Regions from separate parts of the Homo sapiens genome. Here region 2 is linked to region 1. The links come from fine-mapping of genetic effects on gene expression. A gene starts in region 1. The other region holds a variant in brackets. All regions are shown on one strand. Distances are from middle to middle.

Region 1 (4,382 bases):
TGGACCATGTGCATGGTGGGTGTGCATGTATGCTGTGGGTGGTGTCGTGTTCGGGTGTGTGTGCACTGTGTGCTTCAGTGTGTGGTGCATGTGTATGTTGTGTGTGGTGCGGAGTGTGTGAGTTCGGGGGTGCGTGTGCTGTGTGTGTATGTTATGTGTGTTTGTGTGTGGTGGATGTGTGTGTATGTTGTGTGTGGTGTGGAGTGTGTGGGCTTGGGTGTGTGTGTGTGCTGTGTGTGCATGTATGTGTTGGATGTGTATGTATGTTGTGTGTGGGGTGGAGCGTAAGGGTTTGGGGGTGGGTGTGTGCTGTGTGCATGCGTGTGTGGTGTGTAGAGTGTGAGGGTTTGGGAGTGTGTCTGTGTGTGCGTGCGTGTGTGATGTGGTGCAGACTTGTCTCTTCAGGGCCCTGCGGGGGAGGCTTGCGTCTGTCAGGGTGGGGTGGTCTTGGGGTGGGGCGGGGCTCTGGGTCTGTACAGGGCTCAGCAGGGCTGCAGTCAAGGGTGTCTGGGGCAGGCGCAGTGGTTCACACCCATAATCCCAGCACTTTGGGAGGCTGAGGTGGGCAGATCACCTGAGGTCAGGAGTTTGAGACCAGCCTGGCCAACATGGCAAAACTCCGTCTCTACTAAAAATATGAAACTGCCTGGGCACGGTGACTCACGCCTGTAATCCCAGCACTTTGGGAGGCTGAGGCAACAGATCACTTGAGGTTAGGCATTCGAAACCAGCCTGGCCAATATGGTGAAAACTTGTCTCTACTAAAAATACAAAAAAAAAAAAAAAAAAATTAGCCAGGCGTGGTGGCAGGTGCCTGTAATCCCAGCTACTTGGGAGGCTGAGGCAGGAGAATCACTTGAACCTGGGAGGTGGAGGTTTCAATGAGCCAAGATGGCGCCACTGCAGTCCCTCCAGCCTGGGCGACAGAGCGAGACACTCTGTCTCAAAAAAAAAAAAACAAAACTTAGCTGGGGGTGGTGGCACACACCTGTAATCGCAGCTACTCCTGCTGAGGCAGAAGAATCAGTGTCTGGGACACCCTGCAGGCCTGGATTGCAGCTCCACAGGGACCTTTGCCCGTTCTCTGGGTGACTCAGCCATGGTGAGAGGTCAAAGGGCAGGGGGGATGCCCCGGACAGCCCGGGGCCGGGACCTGGTCTGGTCTGGTTCGGGGGCCCTGCTTCTCCTCAGGACCCCCAGCTGGTTCTGATGCTGGGCAGGGGCTCTTGTCTGGGCACTGGACCCCAATCCCACTGCCGTGCTGCCTGGGCCACCCCTGGTGCCCACCTCCCATGACACACAGCCTGGGGGCCTGGGATTCGGGTCACGGTAGCCCCTAGAAAGGTGGTCGGTGGTGACTGCCAAGCAGCCTGGCTGTGGGATCCCCGTGGGTCCCCTCTCCAGGCAAACGGCTCTGGGCACCAAAGGGTCCCCAAGCTACCCAGAAGCCACCTCTCTACAAGGGAGAAACACCAGGAGAGGAGGGGCAGGGAGGGCCCTGGCTTAGAGGAGGGGGAAGAGGAGGAGGGCACCTCCACAGGAGCGGGGAGAGGGGTCCCCCACACAAGGAGGGGGAAGACAGACACCCCCACAGAAGGAAGGCAGCCTCTGATTCCAGGGTCCAGCGGGAGCCCGGGTGCTTCCCTGAGCTCCAGATCACAGCTCCCAGGGTGACACCACCTCAGGGCAGCCCCTGGCTCCTGCGCCCCAGCCCCTCCCCTCCCCCAGCCCCCTTCCTTTTGGGCAGTCACAGGCCTGCTGGTTTCAGCCTGGCACCTCCCCTTTCCTTGTTCCGGGTGGGGGTCCCTGGGTGATTCTCCACCAGGCCAGGGGAACCAAGAGGCAAGTGCACTCGGGGCCACAGAGGAGGTAGAGCCTGGTGGCAGACCCCAGACCCTCAGAGGGCCCCTCCTTCTCCCTCCCACCCGCACACTCCCCTGAACCAGGCCCCCTGGAGCGCAGCACAGCTGGGCCCCCTCTGGCTAAGGGCCAGGCCTCCAGGTTTGGGTGGGGTGGGGATTGGGGCTCAGGGATGGTGGCATTACCTCCTCATGTCTGGGGTCCGCGTCTCTGTAGAGAGTGCTCAGGGAGCTGCAGTGGCTGATCCCAGTATCTGGCACCCGGCCCAGCTCCTCCTGCCCAGGCCCAGGCCAATTGGGGCTTTGTTGCTGCCGCTTGGGGCGTGTCAGGACAGAGGTCGGGGCCAGGGATCCCACCCTGGGTAGCTCAGGTGACTGGCTCTGCAGCCGCCCAGCCCACTCGGGCCTGGATCTGAGCGGGGACACCCAGCTGCCTGCTCAGGGCCTGCCACACGACTGAGGAAGAAATTTGCCTTTAAAAACATGCTTGTTGACCGGGCGCGGTGGCTCACACCTGTAATCCCAGCACTTTGGGAGGCTGAGGCAGGTGGATTGCCTGAAGTCAGGGGATTGAGACCAGCCTGGCCAACATAGTGAAACTCCGTCTCTACTAAAAATAAAAAAAATTAAGTGGGCGTGGTGGTGGGCTCCTGTCATTCCAGCTACTCAGGAGGCTGAGGCAGGAGAATTGCTTGAACCTGGGAGGCGGAGGTTGCAGTGAGCCGAGATTGCGCCACTGCAGTCCAGCCTGGGCAACAAAGAGCGAAACTCAGTCAAAAAACAAAACAAAACAAAACAACACCAAAAAAAAAAAACCTGCTTGTCATGAAGGCTGAACCGTGCTCACAACCAAGGCAACTTGGAAGGGTGTCGTGGGCAGCTGTCCCCAGCTCAGCTGAAGCACTTCCTTCCTCAGGTGGGCGTGACAAATCCCCCATCCAGCCCCAGCCCACCTGCCTGTCACACCTGCCCCTGCCCACCACCTGCGGCAGGGCGGGACCAGCTCAGCTCCACCACCGTGGAACCCTCACCCCCAACGCCACCACCTTCCCCACCCCTTCCAGGCGCTCCCTCCTGTCCTTCCTTACTGGGCACACCAGCCTGAGGAGTCTTGCACGCTGTGTGGCCAGGGCCCGCTCCACGGGGCCCAGTGCCCTCATTGCCTTTTTTATTTTATTTTTTTTGAGACAGTCTCACTCTGTCACCCAGGCTGGAGTGCAGTGGCGCGATCTCAGCTCACTGCAACCTCCGCCTCCTGGGTTCCAGTGATTCTCCCGCCTCAGCCTCCTGAGTAGATGGGACTACAGGTGTGCACCAACACGCCCAGCTAATTTTTGTATATTTAATAGAAACGAGGTTTCGCCATGTTGCCCAGGCTGGTCTCGAACTCCTGACCTAAGTGATCCGCCTGCCTCGGGCTCCCAAAGTGCTGGGATTACAGGCATGAGCCACTGCGCCCGGCCCTGACCACCTTCTTTAGCCGTCCCTGGCACACCCTGTAAAACAAAAACACAATTCCAATCTCCGCCTGACCCCACCCGACTGATGGACCCTCCCTAAGCCCAGGGCATTCCACGGTTAACCTGAAAACTAGTTCAGGCCATAATGGGAAGTGGGGGTCAGACAGGCCTCATTGTACCCGCCTCCTTTTGGAATTCAGGCAAAACTGACCAGCATTAACATTAAAACAGAGACCTTAAGACTAATAGAACAGACTCTGACAAGAAATAGTCCCTTTTATTGATTCTATCTGCATATACTTGGTCTCCACAACACCTTATCTTAACCCTGACTTTCCCTTCTATTGATTCTAGGTCTTTAGATAATAACTTAACTCTTTTGACCAATTGTCAATTGGAAAATTACTGAATCCACCAATGACCTGGACACCCGCCGCCTTTCTGGACCAAACCCATGTACATCTCCCACGTACTGAGTGATGTCTCGTGTCCCGAACATGTATCAAACCAGCTGCACCCCAACCCTCTCGGGCCACACATGTTCTCAGGATCTCCTGGGACGGCATCATGGGCCTTCCGTCACTCATATTTGGCTCAGAATCACTCTCCAAGTATTTTACAGGGTTTCACTCTTTTCCTCGACAACCCCCAGCGGGCAGCTACTGTTGGGGGCTCTGAGACCGCCGGCCTGCAGGGTATGGTTCTCCCGAAGCTGCATGTTCAGACACAATTGGAGGCCGTGCTTCCAAGGGGGTGGAGTGAGGGCCCTCAAGAAAGGCCAACTCAGGAATTTCCAACGTGACCCACAGCGTCTGAGCTATTGAGGAGGGGTCACCCGAAGAAGCCGCTGGGCTTGGGTGAGAACAGATGTTCCTCTGGCCTTCTTGCCTGGGGCTGCTCCTGAAACCACCTTTGCGAAAACCTGATAGTGAATCTGACCTAACCGACTCCACCTTGCTTCTAACCTCCAACCTGTCCTTGTTCATTCCTGGGTGTAGGTCACACCAACTTTGGGAGGATCTTAGTTTATAGTTTAATGTTGAAACAAAGATGAAAACAGCCC
Region 2 (4,382 bases), 27 kb after region 1:
AGGTGTGACAGAAGGCTCACCTCTTGCCTTCTAGGTCTCTTCTCACAATGTGCCTTCAGCACCTGACCCTATACCCGCCAGTTATTTCTTGGTTATATTAGTAACACAACAAAGAGTAATATTAAGAGCTAATGATTAATAATGTTTATACTAATGATTGATAATGTCCATGATCATCTCTATATCTAATTTGTATTATAACTATTCTTTATTCTAACTATTTTCTTTATTATACTGCTACAGTTTGTGCCTTCAGTCTCTTGCCTCGGCACCTGGGTAATCCTTCACCCACAGATCACAAGGTCAGGAGATCGAGACCATCCTGGCTAACACAGTGAAACCCCGTCTCTACTAAAAAAAAAAATACAAAAAATTAGCTGGGCGTGGTGGCGGGTGCCTATAGTCCCAGCTACTCAGGAGGCTGAGGCAGGAGAATGGCATGAACCTGGGAGGCAGAGCTTGCAGTGAGCTGAGATCGCGTGGCTGTACTCCAGCCTGGGTGACAGAGCAAGACTCCGTCAAAAAAAAAAATCCATTCTCGGGCCAGGTGCGGTGGCTCATGCCTGTAATCCCAGCACTTTGGGAGGCCAAGATGGGCGGATCACAAGGTCAGGCGACCAAGATCATCCTGGCTAATAGGGTGAAACTCCGTTGAGAGATGAAGCCAGCTGCACTTCCTGGGTTGAGTGGGGACTTGGAGAACTTTTCTGTCTTACAAGAGGATTGTAAAATGCACCAATCAGCACTCTGTAGCTAGCTAGAGGTTTGTAAAATGCACCAATCAGTGCTCTGTAAAAATGCACCAATCAGCACTCTATAGCCAGCTAGAGGTTTGTAAAATGCACCAATCAGTGCTCTGTAAAAATGCACCAATCAGCACTCTGTCACTAGCCAGAGGTTTGTAAAATGCACCAATCAGTGCTCTGTAAAATGGACCAATCAGCACTCTGTAAAATGGACCAATCAGCAGGACATGGGCAGGGACAAACAAGGGAATAAAAGCTGGCCACCACTGCCTCCCCACCCCCAGCCGGCAGCGGCAACCCGCTTGGGTCCCCTTCCGCAGTGGGGAAGCTTTGTTCTTTCACACTTCACAATAAATCTTGCAGCTGCACACACTTTGGGTCCATGCCACATTTGAGCTGTAACACTCACCACAAAGGTCCGCAGCTTCATTCTTGAAGTCAGTGAGACCATGAACCCACCAGAAGGAACCAACTCCAGACACACTACACACCGTCTCTACTAAAAATACAAAAAATTAGTGGGGTGTGGTGGTGGGTGCCTGTAGTCCCAGCTACTCAGGAGGCTGAGGCAGGAGAATAGTGTGAACCCGGGAGGCGAAGCTTCCAGTGAGCCAAGATTGTGCCACTGCACTCCAGCCTGGGCGACAGAGTGAAACTCAAAAAAAAAAAAAAAAATTCCTCACAGGAAGTAATCAAGCAAGAACTCACTCATTACCTTGAGGGTGGCACCAAGCCATTCATGATCTGCCCCATGACCCAAACACCTCCCATCAGGCCCCACCTCGAACATTGGGGATCAAATGTTAACATCCAAACTCTAGCAGTTGGCATTCCATCCCATCTGCTCTATCACATTCCACCACCTCGTCTATCTACCTACCAGCCTATCAATCATCTGTCACCTATTGTCTATGGCCTATTATCTATCATCGATCACCTATTGTCTATAATCTATCATCTATTGTCTATCGCCTATTATCACCTATTATCCTCTATCATCTATCACCTATCGTCTATTATTTATCACCTACTGTTATCTATCATCTATCACCTATCGTCTACTATCACCTAATGTCTATTGTCTATTATCTATTATCTATCACCTATCGTCCACTATCTATCACCTACTATCTATTGTCTATTATCTATTATCTATCATCTATCACCTATCGTCTATTGTCTATCATCTATCAATAATCTGTCGTCTCTTTAGCTGCTACCTACTACCTTTTTTTCTGAGCCAATGAGTGAATGGGGCATCTGAGTGGGGAGTGGGGGGTGGGGCCTGAGGAGGGGTGAGCTCTGCCCCAGGGACGGGCATCTCCCATTCCCCTGGAGCCAGATGGGAGATGAGAAGGGCCCAGGGGCTCCTGGAGCTGCCGTAAGTCCCACCCTCCCCACCCGGCCTGGCAACTCCTTGCATTCAGAGGAAGTGACCTCTTTATCCGTATATACTTGAGTGTGGATTCCCTGCAAACAAGGGCGTCTTCTTACGGAACCTTCATGCAATGATCAAAATCAGGAATTTAGGTTTCCAGATCCACACAGCCCACGTGAGAGCCAACAGGATGGGGGTGGAAGGGCCTCTGGCTTCCCTGTGTGCGAGCATGGACGCACGTACAGAGAGGAGGGGGCATGGATTGTGTGTGTGAGAGTGCGTGTGTTAGTGTGAGTGTGTGAG[G/A]GTATGAGCACAGACGTACTGAGAGGAGGGAGTGTGGATGACGTGTGTGAGCGTGTGAACACGGACACACAGACAGGAGGGGGTGTGCATTGTGTGTTAGCATGTGTTAGTGTGAGCATGTGAGTATGTGAGCACGGACGCACAGAGAGGAGGGGGTGTGGATTGTGTGTGTGTGAGCGTATGAGTGTGTGAGTGTGAGCACAGATGCATATACAAAGAGAAGGGGTGTGGATTGTGTGTGTGTTAGTGTGAGCGTATGGACGCACATAGAGGAGGTGCATGGATTGTGTGTGTGAGCGTGTGAGTGTGAGCACAGATGCACAGAGAGGAGGGGCGTGGATTGTGTGAGTGTGAGCGTGTGTGAGCAGGGACGCACATACAGAGAGGAGGGGGAGTGGATCATCTGAGTGTGCACGTGTATGAGCATGAGAGGCAGAGAGGGGCAAGGGGGACAGTAGGAGTCAAGGAATGTGTCCACCGTGTTCCCAGCACTGGGCTTCAAATCTGGCTAATTCTTGGAGCTCACCCGTCACCTGCTCATCTACAGATGGGTAAACTGAGGCCCGCGGCAGAGGCCTTACCTTCGCGCAGGGTGGCTGGAACCGGGAGGATCTCTGGGGACCCCTGCCCTGCTCCCACACCTCCTCCCACAGGCTCCCAGCCGCCTGCCCCTGGCAATGCGAGGCCTGGATGCTGGGCCAGGACCACCACAACCGCCGACTCTGCACCGCTCCGCGCGGGGCCGCCCACATCCTCCAAGCGCGTCCCTCCACAGTGTCCGAACTGACACCCAGCGGAGAAGGGTGCTGACGCCTCCAGGAGGTGGCGCTGCAGCCAGACACGCCGACCTGGGCCGCGGGGAAAGGGGAGGACGGCGGTCGGTCGCCTGAGGTCTTCATCTCCGCACGCCCGGGGGTATCGACCGGCTGCCAGTGGAGCAGACACAGGCACAGCCCGTCCGTGTGAGGAGCGGGCGAAGGGGCCAGAGGATGAAGGGACCGGGGTTGGCGGCCCCGGCCTCCGTGTTTCCTGTGAAGGAGGACGGAGACCGGCACTGGCACCCACGGCTGCACTTCAGCTCGGAGTCGTCCATGCACAGCTGGGCCCTGGCCTCTCCACCTGTGCGTGTTCCCGGGGATGCGGCCATCTTTCCATCTCTGCGTCCGGGGGGAGGGGGGTGGGGGGTGTGGTCTTTCCATCTCTGTGTCTGGGGGGCAGGTGTAGTCTTTCCATCTCTGTGTCCTCGGGGGGTGGGGTGTGGTCTTTCCATCTCTGTGTCTGGGGGGGGGTGTGGTCTTTCCATCTCTGTGTCTGGGGGGGGGGGTGTGGTCTTTCCATCTCTGTGTCTGGGGGGGAGGTGTGGTCTTTCCATCTCTGTGTCTGGGGGGGGGGTGTGGTCTTTCCATCTCTGTGTCTGGGGGTGTGTGGTCTTTCCATCTCTGTGTCTGGGGGGGGTGTGTGGTCTTTCCATCTCTGTGTCTGGGGGTGTGTGGTCTTTCCATCTCTGTGTCTGGGGGGGGTGTGGTCTTTCCATCTCTGTGTCTGGGCGGGGTGTGTGGTCTTTCCATCTCTGTGTCTGGGGGGGGGTGTGGTCTTTCCATCTCTGTGTCTGGGGGGGGGTGTGGTCTTTCCATCTCTGTGTCTGGGGGGGGGGGTGTGGTCTTTCCATCTCTGTGTCTGGGGGGGAGGTGTGGTCTTTCCATCTCTGTGTCTGGGGGGGGGTGTGGTCTTTCCATCTCTGTGTCTGGGGGGGGTGTGGTCTTTCCATCTCTGTGTCTGGGGGGGGGGTGTGGTCTTTCCATCTCTGTGTCTGGGGGGGAGGTGTGGTCTTTCCATCTCTGTGTCTGGGGGGGGGGGGGTGTGTGGTCTTTCCATCTCTGTGTCTGGGGGTGTGTGGTCTTTCCATCTCTGTGTCTGGGCGGGGTGTGTGGTCTTTCCATCTCTGTGTCTGGGGG

Alleles and levels. Positions count from the first base shown, and alleles are read on the strand shown. Sizes are in standard deviations (SD) of each study's normalised expression.
As copies of A replace G in region 2, the expression in testis of the gene that starts at base 2,098 in region 1 goes up (small effect, 0.34 SD a copy in GTEx).

Evidence for each region. PIP is the estimated chance that this variant, and not a neighbour inherited with it, causes the effect. A credible set is the group of variants that fine-mapping cannot tell apart.
Region 2: its variant is the best candidate, but not a certain one, in a credible set for the expression of PRAP1 in testis (GTEx, PIP 0.59).

The regions. Positions count from the first base shown.
Region 1 is chr10:133,345,089-133,349,470 of GRCh38, reverse strand. PRAP1 (proline rich acidic protein 1) reads right to left here and starts at 2,098. Exons shown (of 5, transcript NM_145202.5): 1 at 2,046-2,098. The coding sequence starts at 2,053. The region is part of intron 5 of ZNF511-PRAP1 (ZNF511-PRAP1 readthrough); the gene reads right to left. RefSeq lists enhancers at 753-1,412, 1,413-2,072, 2,073-2,732.
Region 2 is chr10:133,317,714-133,322,095 of GRCh38, reverse strand. The region is part of intron 5 of ZNF511-PRAP1 (ZNF511-PRAP1 readthrough); the gene reads right to left. Among named protein-coding and RNA genes, the nearest start is that of ZNF511-PRAP1, 11 kb to the right of the region's middle. RefSeq lists an enhancer at 3,325-3,554. The variant G/A (reference allele first, on the strand shown) is at 2,428.